Linked DNA regions of Homo sapiens: regions 2 and 3 are each reported to be linked to region 1. Evidence: microRNA targets listed by miRTarBase, many of them from high-throughput screens and not tested one by one. Region 1 holds a microRNA gene; each other region holds the end of a gene's coding sequence.

What was found. Region 1 holds the annotated microRNA hsa-miR-3145-5p (AACUCCAAACACUCAAAACUCA, at 3,031-3,052, opposite strand). A microRNA usually pairs through its seed, bases 2 to 8, with sites in the 3' UTR of a target mRNA and lowers its output. Matches are read on the target gene's strand: a 7mer-m8 pairs with bases 2 to 8, a 7mer-A1 pairs with bases 2 to 7 and ends in A, and an 8mer does both.
Region 2: miRTarBase lists TNR as a target of hsa-miR-3145-5p. The part of its 3' UTR that is shown has no 7-base or 8-base seed match.
Region 3: the mRNA of GALNT1 is a reported target of hsa-miR-3145-5p. The part of its 3' UTR that is shown has no 7-base or 8-base seed match.

The regions. Positions count from the first base shown.
Region 1 is chr6:138,432,232-138,436,474 of GRCh38, forward strand. It overlaps MIR3145 (microRNA 3145), which reads right to left and starts at 3,063; the gene lies at 2,982-3,063. It overlaps NHSL1 (NHS like 1), which reads right to left. Exons shown (of 8, transcript NM_001144060.2): 6 at 1-1,449.
Region 2 is chr1:175,319,982-175,324,224 of GRCh38, forward strand. TNR (tenascin R) reads right to left here. Exons shown (of 23, transcript NM_003285.3): 23 at 1-3,495. The coding sequence ends at 3,376. LOC105371623 (a long non-coding RNA gene) reads left to right here. Exons shown (of 4, transcript XR_001738302.2): 2 at 1,001-1,140. Among named protein-coding and RNA genes, the nearest start is that of KIAA0040, 130 kb to the left of the region's middle.
Region 3 is chr18:35,709,436-35,713,678 of GRCh38, reverse strand. GALNT1 (polypeptide N-acetylgalactosaminyltransferase 1) reads right to left here. Exons shown (of 12, transcript NM_020474.4): 12 at 1,845-4,055. The coding sequence ends at 3,909. It overlaps LOC105372064 (a long non-coding RNA gene), which reads left to right. Exons shown (of 5, transcript XR_935377.3): 2 at 1-1,693. Among named protein-coding and RNA genes, the nearest start is that of MIR3975, 120 kb to the right of the region's middle.

The sequences.
Region 1 (4,243 bases):
GGAGTGTGGCGATCAGGCTCTCGTTGAGCACCTGCCCGTTGCACTGGCTGCTCTTCTTGGGAATCCTGCGGAGGGAGTCTGTCCGGGAGGGTGGCAGGGGAGGCTTCTTTGCTTTCTTCAAAGAGATGTTTCTTGATAGGGATTTATCCTGGTAATTGGACCGGTCCCCTTGGTTTTTCTGAGCTCTTCCAACAAAAACATTGATCACGCTGTGCCTGGGGTTCCCAAAGCCATCACTGCTATTGCACAGATTCCCAGATCCATGTCCAGAGTCAGTGTGCACAGATGCACAGTAGCCATCGTGGTCCTCAGAATACAGCGACCCAGCATCCTCTTTGTTGGACGTTTGGTCCAAACTGCAGCTGCTCATGTTACTTGTGGGAGTGGAATAGCCAGGAGTTGCTAAATGCGGCTTCAGGGGGGATGCCCTTCCATTACCTGAGGATTTGTATTCCCAGGGCTCCGAGCTGCTGTGCCCTCCGCCCCCTGAATAACTAGATTCACTCTTGCCATCCACATCTTGGGGGTGGGCTGGGAAGGCCAGGTTGTTTCTACAATTATACGGCATAGCTTGGGACCCATTCTCCCTATTTGCTGGAGCATTTAGAGGGACGGCTGAGTCACAGAGGGACAACAGTGCGGGTTCACCAGGGGAATGAGGGTCTAAGTCCTGTGAAAGAATGGTGGCATGGCCCTCATTCCAGTGGCGACCGGGAGACTGAGGATCACCTTTCACAGCATGCCTGGAGATGAGGTGGTCTCTGGATTTTATCCTTGCATGTGATGAGCCAGAACTTTTACTTTCCCGCTGTCCCGCACTCTGAGCAGTGGGAATAGCGATGACCTCGGAAGAGGAAGACAGTGTGGCATTTGGGATGATGCTGGTGGAGTAGGTTGCATGAGGAGAAACCACACACGCTGGGCTCATTATATTTTCACTCTCGAAGTGTCTCAACTCCTGGGATTTGGGTCTCAAAAGTGTTCCAGTCCCTGAGGCACCTCCTAAATGGCCTAAGTTTTCATCTGCTTGTGGGTGACCTCTCTGGTAGAGGAAAGTGCCATTCATGTCTCCTGCAGGGCCGAGGGCACCCAGCCTCGGCTCAAGGGACTGAATGTTTGCCCTTGCTCCAGAACGCGGAAGACTATGGAAGCCAGCATCACTGTCAAGGCGGGAAGGGAATACGATCCCTGCAGAATCGCTCAGCACAGACATGTTGCCAGAGGAACCTGAGAAGTGGCCCATCTGGGCAGCAATGCCTTGCCCCTTCTGTGCCCTGATTCTCCTCATGGAAGGTGGTACGACCTTCACATCCTCCGTCTGACAGCTGGAGTCCCTGGTTTCTGAGCGCTGCCCAGCAGACCGACAGCTATTGAACCTTCCTAGTGTAGAGTAGTGATCAGGGGTGTACACTGAGTGGCCATCAGCATCATCTTGGCCAGTGCCTGATGCTGGAGATAAAGCAGAAAGAGGCTTGTTACCTGAAAATAAAATCCATAGTTCATCACGTGTACCCTCACCCCTCTGACAGAATTTTAAAAAAATTTTTCTATTTGATTTAATTTCCTTTCTCCTGTAGGTATCTAAGTACATTTAAAAAGTTACTGATAGCTCTAAAATGAAAATTATTGTCATGAATGTCAGGTACTTCTCTTAATTTGTACCTCCAATCCTCCTATGGCTTGAGTGCTGCGTATGGAATTCTCAGGGTATCCCTTCAAGATCAAGGCTGCCAAGGGCTCAGAGGAGGATTTACTTTGAAATAATCACCTTTCAGTAAAGTCTTCAAGGTAGCCTTTCGCCCACTGGGTGACTGTGCAGACCATCTATCAAGCAGTGACACATCTTTCCCAAAGGTAGATGAATGTAGTAATTGAACAATAGGGCCACAGAGATACCATATTTGAGGGGTACTGGTATAAAACAGTGTTAATTACATTAATTCTTTATGTCAGAAGGAAATTCTAAGGCAAAGAAAATTGATTTACAGGCCCATCTGTGTTCCAAACATTTCATTATCCATCTGAAGCCATTATCTGTCTGTTGGTGACATTCAAAATTCAACAGCAATCTGTTGTGTTCTAGTTGGGGAAACTGGCAGGAACTGATCCAGTGAACATTTCCTCAAATTAGGATGATTTATTCGTTGGAGTTTTACAACCAAACAGAGAATAGTATGTTAAAAAAAAAAAAAGACAGAAAGAAAGAAACACAAGGAAGGGCCAACAGAGAGGGACGTGGACGAGGTAAACTTTAAGTGTAAACAGTTAGATTTCAAGCTACCCAGGAAAGAACAGAGCTTATGAGAAAAAAGAAAAAAAATCACAAAGACAAGAACCTACCCAAAGTGTACTGAGAAAAAAAAAAGTCAATCCTTAAGACAAATCGAATCTCTAAAAATAGTAGTAAAACTATAGTTCTCCCTATGTTATCTCCATCCAACAAGGACCCAAAAGTATCTATCTCAACACGGGCTTTGCTGAGCAATGCGAGTCAAGCACACCCCTCTGTGTCAGTGGACACCTGGATGCGACCCTAGGACTGATGGGGTTTCTAAGGCTTCCCTCTCCCAACACATAATCTAACCAGGGCATGGACTGGATATAGGATGCCTTTTGCTCACTCAGATAGCAGAGGGTAGTACTGAAATGGCAGCACTGTGCTTGTATCAACCTCAAAGGAGATGGCACCCTGGAAGGAAGGATCCCAGCATAAAGCCTTCTCCTTCACTGTGATGATGGAGAGGAATTTTTATACTTGTATTTTTAGCGAAGATGATCTATTTCCTCTCTCTACCCTCTTTCAAGTACTCACTCACTGAAGACAGATAGACAGACACATACACACACACGAGGCTGTCCCACACAGAGAGGGAAATGGGCAAAAGGGCAGGACAGAAGAAAAACCCACTTTGAGGAAGTGCAAAATTTTGCCATTTAGTAATTTAGAAGATGGGAAGTTGACTGGTATCGGTGTATCAGTGTATACGAGTTCAATTCCAAACACTCAAAATATCTCATTCCATTCAACAATGAGTTTTGAGTGTTTGGAGTTGAACTCATATAAACAAATACATTTTTTTTCCTTTCAAAATTGTACTAGTTTTTGCATGGAGTTAGTGGTAGATTTTTAACTGTCTTTAAGTAGCATAAACAAAATCCTGATACTTTTGGGTAGCAGTTTTAAATGTGAAACCATTCTAGGCATGTAAAAAAAAATAGAAATACAGCTATTTTATCACCCTCTAGAGCTAAGTATAACTTTCTTATTAAAACAAAAACATTTCCTAAAGACCTTAAAAAGCATATGAAAAAACTCATATATCTTATCACAAGGACCACCAAAATTCTATTCCCAAAACAGACCCTCCAATATTTTCACAGTATAAAAAGTTTCAGAATATGATAGGAAACAGATGAATGCTATAGATGCATACGTCGTTTTACTGTGCTTAGCTTTATTGTGCATTGCAGATAACTGGGGTTTTTTTTTTTGTTTTTTTGTTTTTGTTTTTTTTTTTACAAGTCGAAGGTTTGTGGCAACCCTGTGTTGAGCAAGTCTATTGATGCCATTTTTCTAACATGCTTACTGTGTGTCTGTGTGTCACGTTTTGGTAATTCTTGCAATATTTCAAACTTTTTCATTATTATTAGATCTGTTACGGTGATCTGTGACCAGTGATCTTTGATATTACTATTGTAATTGTTTTGGGGGTGCCACAAATCACACCCACATAAGATAGCAAATATAATTGATATATGTTGTGTGTGTTCTGACTGCTCCACTGACCAGCTGTTTCCCAGTTTCTCTCCCTCTTCTTGGGCTTCTCTATTCCCTGAGATACAACAATAATGAAATTAGGTCAATTAATAACCCTACAATAGCCTCTAAGGGTTCAAGCGAAAGGAAGAGTTGCATGTCTCTCACTTTAAATCAAAAGTTAGAAATGATTAAGCTTAGTGAGGAAGGCATGTCAAAAGCTAAGATAGGCCAAAAGCTAGGCCTCTTGTGCCAAACAGTTAACCGAGCTGTGACTGCAAAGGAAAAGTTCTTGAAGGAAATGAAAAGTGCTACTCCAGAACATACACAAATAAAAAAACAGCTTTATTGCTGATATGGAGAAAGTTTTAATGGTCTGGACAGAAAATCAAACCAGCCACAACATTCCCCTTAAGCCAAAGCCTAATCAAGGCCCTAACTCTCTTCAATTCTGTGAAAGCTGAGAGAGGTGAGGAAGCTATAGAA
Region 2 (4,243 bases), not on the chromosome of region 1:
CTTTATATGTTGGGGAAATGCAAAAAAGGGAAACTGCCTGGACCTTGGGTCTAGACAGTGAATCTATTGCAGTCATTGGTGGTGGTTTTGGTTTTGGGTATTAGTACATATCCTGATGTGTCTGTAGTTAAACAGCCTCTGAGAAGGGTCTACCTCGATTCCTTTTGAGTCCCTTGAGGGAAACTGGTGTGCATAGGGTGGGTGCTTTGAGAGTATTGCTTACTGGATCTACCTTTGGGAAATGCAGTTGTGCTTGGAGGAGCAGGATAAGCAGGAATCAGCGAGGAAAGTTATGAGCATTGAGTCAAGTTGACCATAGACCTTGGGATGAGAGTGGGGCACAGTGTCTTTTAAACATGGTGAAAACTCATGAGAAAATCACCCTATTAAATAAAAGGAATCTATAAATCCTTTTATAGAGGGTTGAATAAGCTGATCTTTGAAGTCTCTTTCTTGCTTCAAAATAAAGCTATGCAATGCCGCTGGTACTATTTATAAAAATGTTCCATAGTGTAGAATGGTTTCAATAAAAGGAAGATTTTTGTTTCCACTGATGTTTCTTGACTTTCACCTGAATTGACAACACATAATCTTTTTCCATTTCAACTTCCTTGATGAAGTGGGCGTGCTGGCACCACCCAGGTACCTGGTCTCTGTTTTTATGGACAAAAAGAGTTCAGCCTCTCACTCGGCATGATCTTTTCTGCAGTATTTTCGTGTGTGTGTGTGTGTGTGTGTGTGTGTTTTACTTATGACTCCTGAATCAATCTCTCTCTTTTCTTTCCCTCCCTCCCTCCCCTTCCTTCTTTCCTTCCTTCCTTCCTTCCTTCTTTCCTTCTTTCCTCATTAAACAGGGAGTCTAGTGAATTTTCATTACCTAATTGTGCTGTCCCACCATGCCAATTTCTACTTAGGTTTTCAGATCACAGATTAGCATCATTGACCGTCAAAACTGAAAGGGAAATTAGAACTCATTCTAGTCTAATCTCTCATCTGACAGATGAAGAAACTGGCCCAGAGAGGTGAAACAACCCAGCCGATGTCATGTCGTAGCTAAGATGACAGCTGTTGGCCTGTACCTCGGCCCTCAAGTTTCCCATGCAATGTGCTTCCTACTATTCATTGTTGCCCCGTCTCTAGGTAAGTCTTCTGTAATTTACATGCTTGTTGAAAGGATCTGTTTCTGTTTTTTCCTCCTCCCAGTTTGTTGAAGCCCATGGTTAACTGAGAAATGCAAGTGGTGCCTAGGTTTTTCAGGGTTATGCCTGTCACATCCACACTGCCGCAGTGAACAAAGCCTAGAAGCCTGCGGCAAGGGAAGCGCCTCCATTCAATGGTGGCTGGCTGCATCCCCATGAGGTCCGAGGCCTGATGGTCAGCCCAAGGGACTTTTCATCTTGGTTCTCAAAGCTTGGTAAGAGTGAGGATATTTCCATTAGAAAATTGCCGACACTAAGGCTCATCCAGTAACTGGTTGGCAAAGGTACACACTGCTCTGGTCAGACAAACATAGGCACTACAGAAAATGGTGCTGGGCCTTGAGGAATGGGAGAGGAAAGGGAGAAGACAGCTCAGGGAACTGGGCATGGATCTGGGCAGATGTTGCGGGGATGGTTGCTGATATTGGATTTGGAGGAGAAATTGAAAGGTCACGGCTTCTAGAGCATCTAGCTCTCTTGGGCTTAAGATCAAATTGTGCTAGTGAAGACAGTGCATCTCATAAAATGGGAAGTAGGCCCACAGTTATCACCTATTCACCTTTGGATTTCTGGATGTAATTTCCTTTGGCTATTGTCATTTTTCCTTTGCAAGGCAGAATAATAAAAGAAGATGGAAAGGCTTCTCATGATCTCACCTCATTAAGAAGGTCATTCCTGTTTCCCATAGGACCAAAAAAGAAAAAAAAAATCAACCTCTTTCCAGGATTATCAGTCAGGGGTATAGCTCTCTGGGCATATACCTTCTTCTCCTGACTCTTATTAAGCCACCTACACTAAGGAGGGCTTGGGTGAAGATAGATATGAGGCCTTCGGTTTGCAATTCAGAAAAAAAGAATCTGTGACAAATAGGACCAGAAATGGAGAAAACAGGGCTAGGGAAGATCTGTGTTTCCCATGGAAACTATAATCTCTATGGCAGTGCCCTGATTTTGACTTCTTCAGTCCTTTCCTCAATGCTTGACCCAAAAGTGCTAAAAACTACAACCATCTCCCCCTCCTACCTTTGCAGAAAGTGACTGTCTGTCTGACCTGAGGGTGGGGGCAGTGGCTGATGACTCACAGGCACATAGCCACTGTGCCACCCAGGGCCAGGAGCAGGCAATGCCTTGGGAACTAGATTCCAAAATGCTGGTTGGGCTTTTGAGGCTCTGGGGTCTAAGACAGGATGGGATTAGGCAAAAGACTCCATCAGGGCCAGAAAAGAGCCACTGTTCTTGAAAGGTAACAGGACATGTGGCTGGTATAATAAGAGTGTCAGAAGATGAGAATCTTTGGCCCATTATAAAGGACTTGGGGCTGGATGCAGTGGCTGTAGCCTGTAATCCCAGCATTTTGGGAGGCTGAGGTGGGAGGATTGTTCAAGGCCAGGAGTTTGTGACCAGCCTGGACAACACAGTGAGACCCCCATCTCTACAAAAAATAAAAGAAAAATCAGCCAGGTATGGTGGCTCATGCCTGTAGTCCCAGCTACTCAAGAGGCTGAGACGAGAGGATCACTTAAGCTCAGGAAGTCGAGGCTGTAGTGAGCTGAGATTGCACCACTGCACTCCAGACTGAGCAAGAGTGAGATACTGTCAAGAAAGAAAGGAGGGAAGGAGGGAAGGCAGGAAAGAAGGAAGGGAGGAAGGAAGGAAGGAAGGAAAAGAACCTGGGTTGTTGGGATGCGGTGTAGTTGATCTGTTTCCTTTTAAGGGGAATTGTTGGCAAAACTCTCTTGCTGAGGCTCTTTTCTCTGGGCCAGTGTGAGAACCTGGCCATGTCAGGCTGTGACAAAATCACAAATACCTGGAAGGCAGAGGACATCTCAGAAGAAGGGTAGAAAAATGTGTGTGCCTGTCACCATAACAATCTGCACCCCACGACTTGGCTTTGAATTGGCCCTTTAAGAAAACTTCCTACTTCTCCTCCTTGGTGGGAAAGGAGGTGAAGGTTGAGGAGGCCTGGGTAGGAGGGAGAATGGAGACTGAGGGTCAGGCTCCAGGGCAGCAGAAACCAAGAGCAGATGTTAGCCAGCGGATTCCTGCGACATCCCTGCTTCCTTCACATACTCTTAATATGTTGCAAAACACATTGCTATTACCCTCCCCCCTTGTTTCATATTATAAAATACAAACAAATGACAGAAAATATTGGTTGGCTTGCAGCCGCCCACTGCTCAGAACTGTAAGGACTGCCGTTTTCTCCCTGCCATGAGACGGTGGTTGTAGGGGCGCATCTTCATTTCCACAAAGGGGATGGAGAACTCATGGCCTTTCCAATGGTACCAGTTGATGCCCTGGGCGTGAGAAAGATAAGCATGTCAGGTCATCCCCCACCATGGAACGCCCCACTTCAAAAAAGGGGTAATTATGGGAACAGGGAATCCACAATGTGGGGTTAGCTATTTTCAGCTAACATGAAGCTTCAAGGCCGAGTTCCCAATAAAGTGAAAGGGGCAGAGTCTCTTTCTAGCTTTCTCCTTAAATGTGCCGGTGGCCTGGGTCTTTCCAGGGAACATGTTGCAGGTCATTCCTTATTGCCAGCTTTGTTTTTGGCTTCCAGGAGTGGCATGCACCAGTAGATGGTTGTGAAATCCCAACAGGGTGGAAGCATTTGGAAGAGAATAACTGTGTTTGACTGCTCACTCCTAATGGGAGACTTAGGCGGTTTCTACCTAGGGTGACAAACCCTTTTGGTTTGCCTAGAACTGAAGGGCTTCCCTGATGTGGGCTGTTTCAGTGTTAACACTTAGAAAGTCTAGTTGGTCATGGTGGTCTCCCTGTCACCCAGCTTAGCCTATAAACTTGTGGTCTCTGATAGGGAAAGATTGTCCAGTTCACACTGGTATTTTCGATGTCTACCTTCCTGGGACCATTTTTAGGGTAAAGTTGAGTCTGTGAAGCTGTCCCCAGGACTGATAAGCTCTCTTCATGGGATCTTCTGGATCCAAGGGCTTCTCTGGGTAAGTTCTGGCTCCTGGGTCCTTTCCTTTCCTTCCTCTGGCTTCTACTCTGTCCTGATCTTATCCCATTGTCTGCATTATT
Region 3 (4,243 bases), not on the chromosome of region 1:
CTGATGTTTGAGTGCCATTTCCTATGCTACTCCTGCATCTGGAGAGCTTCTGTGAAGTATGTATTCAACTCACTCATTGTTAAACTGGGTTGCTGTTACAATGGTTTTAAAATGTTCTTTGCTTTCCTTTGGTTCCGTGTATTGTGATTATTTTCTCTTAGGCCGTGGCTTGCCTTTTCACTTTAAAAGTATCTTTTTGATGAGAAGTATCTAATTTTGATGAAATCTGTCAGTTTTTTTGTTTAACCTTCCTGAGATGTCTTCGCCTAAGATATCCTTGTCTACCCCAATGTCATGAAGATAGTCGGTTTCCTTTTACAAGATTTATTGTTTTGCCATTCACATTTAGTTCTATAATCCATTTTGAATAAACTGTGCATGGTATGAAGAAGGCATTATTAACATTGCTTTTTCCCAGACATCCAGTTACTTCAACTCCAACTGAAAAATCTTCCCTTTTTCTATTGAATAGCTTGTTTTTGTTGAAAAGCCAATAACCATATACATGTGGGTCTATTTCTGGACATGTCTATTTCTATTTGTTGTTTATCCTAACTCTAGTACCATACTCTCTTAACTGTTGTAGCTTTAGAGCAAGTCTTGACATTGGGTAGTACAAGTGCTCCAATTTTATTTTTCTTCTTCAAAATTATCTTGGCTACTTAGAATCTGTTGCATTTTCATATATGTATTTGCCAATTTCTACAAGATGGCCTTGTGGGATTTTGATCTCATTGAATCTAGATAACAATTTGTGGGGAACTGACATCTTACCATTATGCAGTCTTTCAATCCATGAGCATAGAATAGCCATTTATTTTGGTGCTCTATAATTCTTCCCAGCACTGTTTTGTAGTTTTCAGAGTAGAGGTCTTGTTGTTAACTTTCTTCCTACTTAGAAGTTTGACTTATTTGATGCTATTACAAATGGCATATTTTAACGTTATATTTTCAAGTGTTTGTTGCTAGGATATAGATACACAACTGAATTTCATATATTTGCCTCATATTCTGCAAAATTATCAGTCCTGGTAGATTATCAAGCAAATGCTTGGCAATCTTCAGGAAATCAGAGAATGGAGAAAATGTCATCTAATTAGAAACAGATCTAATTTTCCAAATGGCTTAAAAAGTGACTCATTCTTTGTATACAACCCCTCACAGTTATGACCTCAGAAACACTACCTTCTAAGTTTCTTTTTTCTTTGAAGAACAGGTAACTATAGAGTTAAATTTGCTCTTGGTATACTTCTTGGAAGATGAGAAGAGCATCAAATCCTTACAAAGAGGAACCTCTGTTTCTCAGCTAAATGTAGAATGGGAGCAATGAGGACATGGCCTGCACGATGTCCTCCATCTGCAGAATGGATGAATATTCCCAATGTTCAATGGCAGCACTATTTCTCAAGAATGCCAATGAAGATAGATATATTAAAATAGACCTTGACTGGGGTGGGGTGAATAGATTTGTGAGATTCAAATTATCCTTAATTGTCACATTTATGAATTCTTCACTGGTTAAATAATAATCCCACTTTTTCATCCTTCATTTTTTCTTTTTTTTTAAGATACATGGTTTCTTCTCTGTTGCCCAGGCTGGAGTGCAGTGGCACCATCATAGCTCACTGCAACCTCAAACTCCTGCCCTCAAGTGGTCCTATCGTCTCACCTTCCCAAAATGCTAAAATTACAGGTATGAGCCAGTACCCAGCCATTGTTTTCTTTTTCATTCTTTTCTTCCCAATTTGAGTTATAATAGAGTGATAAGCATCTGCCTAATTACAAGTAATTATGATAAACAGGGATCCACTCTAACTTCAAATAAAACCAATGTAAGGCACAACTATTCAGGAATATTTTGTATTTTCAAAGTATTTAGGAATTCTTTAATTAGAAAAATAAAGGCAATGGGATTATCTATCAGGTTCTAAAAGTACCCATGAATTAAATCACTTACATCTCCCATTTAAAACAAAACCTTAAATCACATTGCTGTTAAGCTTTCATACAGTAAGAAATAAGACCAAGCTATGCTGGAGTACAAAAACCTGAAATTCTGAGCATGAAAATAATTTATTGATTAGACATCTTGCTTATTCAAGCATTAGGCCTACTGGAGATAGAATTAACACAGCTCATGGAAAAGGAAAAAAATTCCATTCAGCACCTGCTTCCTTTCAAATTTCCTGGGGACATGGTTTATGCATTTTGTACTATAGACTCACCCTAAAGCATCCCCATGTGCTTGATGTTGATTAACTTGAACAGGATATGAGAAACTTTGTGTACACTCAACTTGGCAAATATCATTAGCGATGCGACTTTTGGAAACATTCTTAGGCACAAGAAATAGCACTGCCTGCAGTGAAAGTCCTTGATAATCAAAGAAAAGAATTCCATTAAATATAATTTTACAAATATGAAAGAAAATATATGCATTTTTGCCAACAGACTGCTCTACATATCAGGAAAAATGTCTTAATGAGATTCCTCCTACGAGATTAAAAGGTTACCTTTTAATTGACAACTTTCAATTGACACTCAGGTGATTCTGTGGTATTAAAAAAAATCAGAGAAAAATAAAACTGATTTAGCCTAAATAAGATTTAGGAAAAGAAATGCAAGCCTATTAATATGGAATAATAGCTGCACTTCTTTGGCTAAGTCATTAAAAAATGCCAATTAAACATTTTCAGTCAAATTTTATTTAAAAAAAGCAGCAGATAAACATTACAATTCAATAATCTAATCTAAATATGCATTTGACAATGAAGCATATCTGAGTATGGAGTGAAAAAGGTTTTCCAAAAAACCATCAAATGTATTATCTCCAAATACCCAAATAATAAATCACTTCTGCAGGCCTTTTGTTAAGTGGAATCATAAACAAAGAACTGAAGATTTATTGCTGTGAAAACAAATCTGTGGTACAGTAGCATGAATCTTGGGTATTTCGCATAATCAGTTAGGTCAAGTGAAGAAGTCGAAAATGTGATAAGAAATTTGTGTGTGTGTGCACATGTAAATCTGTAAGCCAGTTGACCCAAGAGCAACTGAAACATCTAATTTGTTCAGCTGAGATCAGACATTGTTAAATTTCCATTTTTTAGAAGGCAATTAAAAATTACAATTCCAACAGCCCACAAACCAAACAAAAAAAACTGTAGAGAGAAATTAAAACTATATTCAAAGAGCCTTTTTTTTTCAGCTCAATTTCAGCACCCCAAGGAAAATAAAAGCATCCATGACTATCACAGATGAAAACAAAATGAATGTCATTGGAATCAGTTATTTTTCCCCACTGAGGTATAAAATCTATATAGAAATTTGATACTATACTATAACAAATTGTACTTCTCATAGTTCTGTTTTAATTTCCTTTAAACCCTGTTTAATATAGTTTTTTTGTTGTTGTAAAAATGTTGTTTTCATGATTCTGAATCTGGTTCCAGTTCTTTTATTTTTATATCAATATTTAATATACTGGCTACCAGTTCTAATCAGGAAAAAAAATCTTGGAAATCTCTTCATTATGACAGCACGTTCAGCAGAAACTACTGATGTGCAAGCAAACCATAAAAGGTACAGTTCTCCAGAAAGCATATTTTGTTGATTTTTTTTCATTGTCTCAGTATTCTTTACCATGATTTTCGGAGAAAGACTCTTTCAATCTTGTAAACATCAGTGTGCACAGTCTCATTACTATGCAGTTTCACGTCCATGGACAGGAAGGCTGGTTCACAGCTAGTGAAAAGCTAGAGAAGTCTAAGTTTTAATGGCTGATAAACCTTACATCCTGCAGAGGAGGAAAGCACTTTTCCTTTTTTGCTACTTAAGAATGTGGCAGAAATGTATGCTGAGGTAGCCCAGTCAATCCTTATTTTTTTCGTTTTTTTGTAAATTTGGTCTCAGAATATTTCTGGCAGGGTGACGTTTCGAAGAAGCCACTGCTGGGACCGACTTCCATTGCAGTCTCTAATGCTGGGCACCTGGCTATCCTCTTCTGTGGCTTTATCCAGGCACTGATTACTGTTCACATGCTGCAGGGTTAATTTCTGAAATAGAAAAAATCTTAACATGAGAGTGGAAGAAAACAAAACACCTCAAGCATCAGTTTTGGTGATTAAGTTCCTCTGCAGAAAAGGTGTTTTTTTTGGTAATATACATTATTTAAAAGACAACGGAGAAAAGGTAGGTAGGTGGATGGATGGAGAAACAGAGAGAGAGAGAGAGAGAGAGAGAA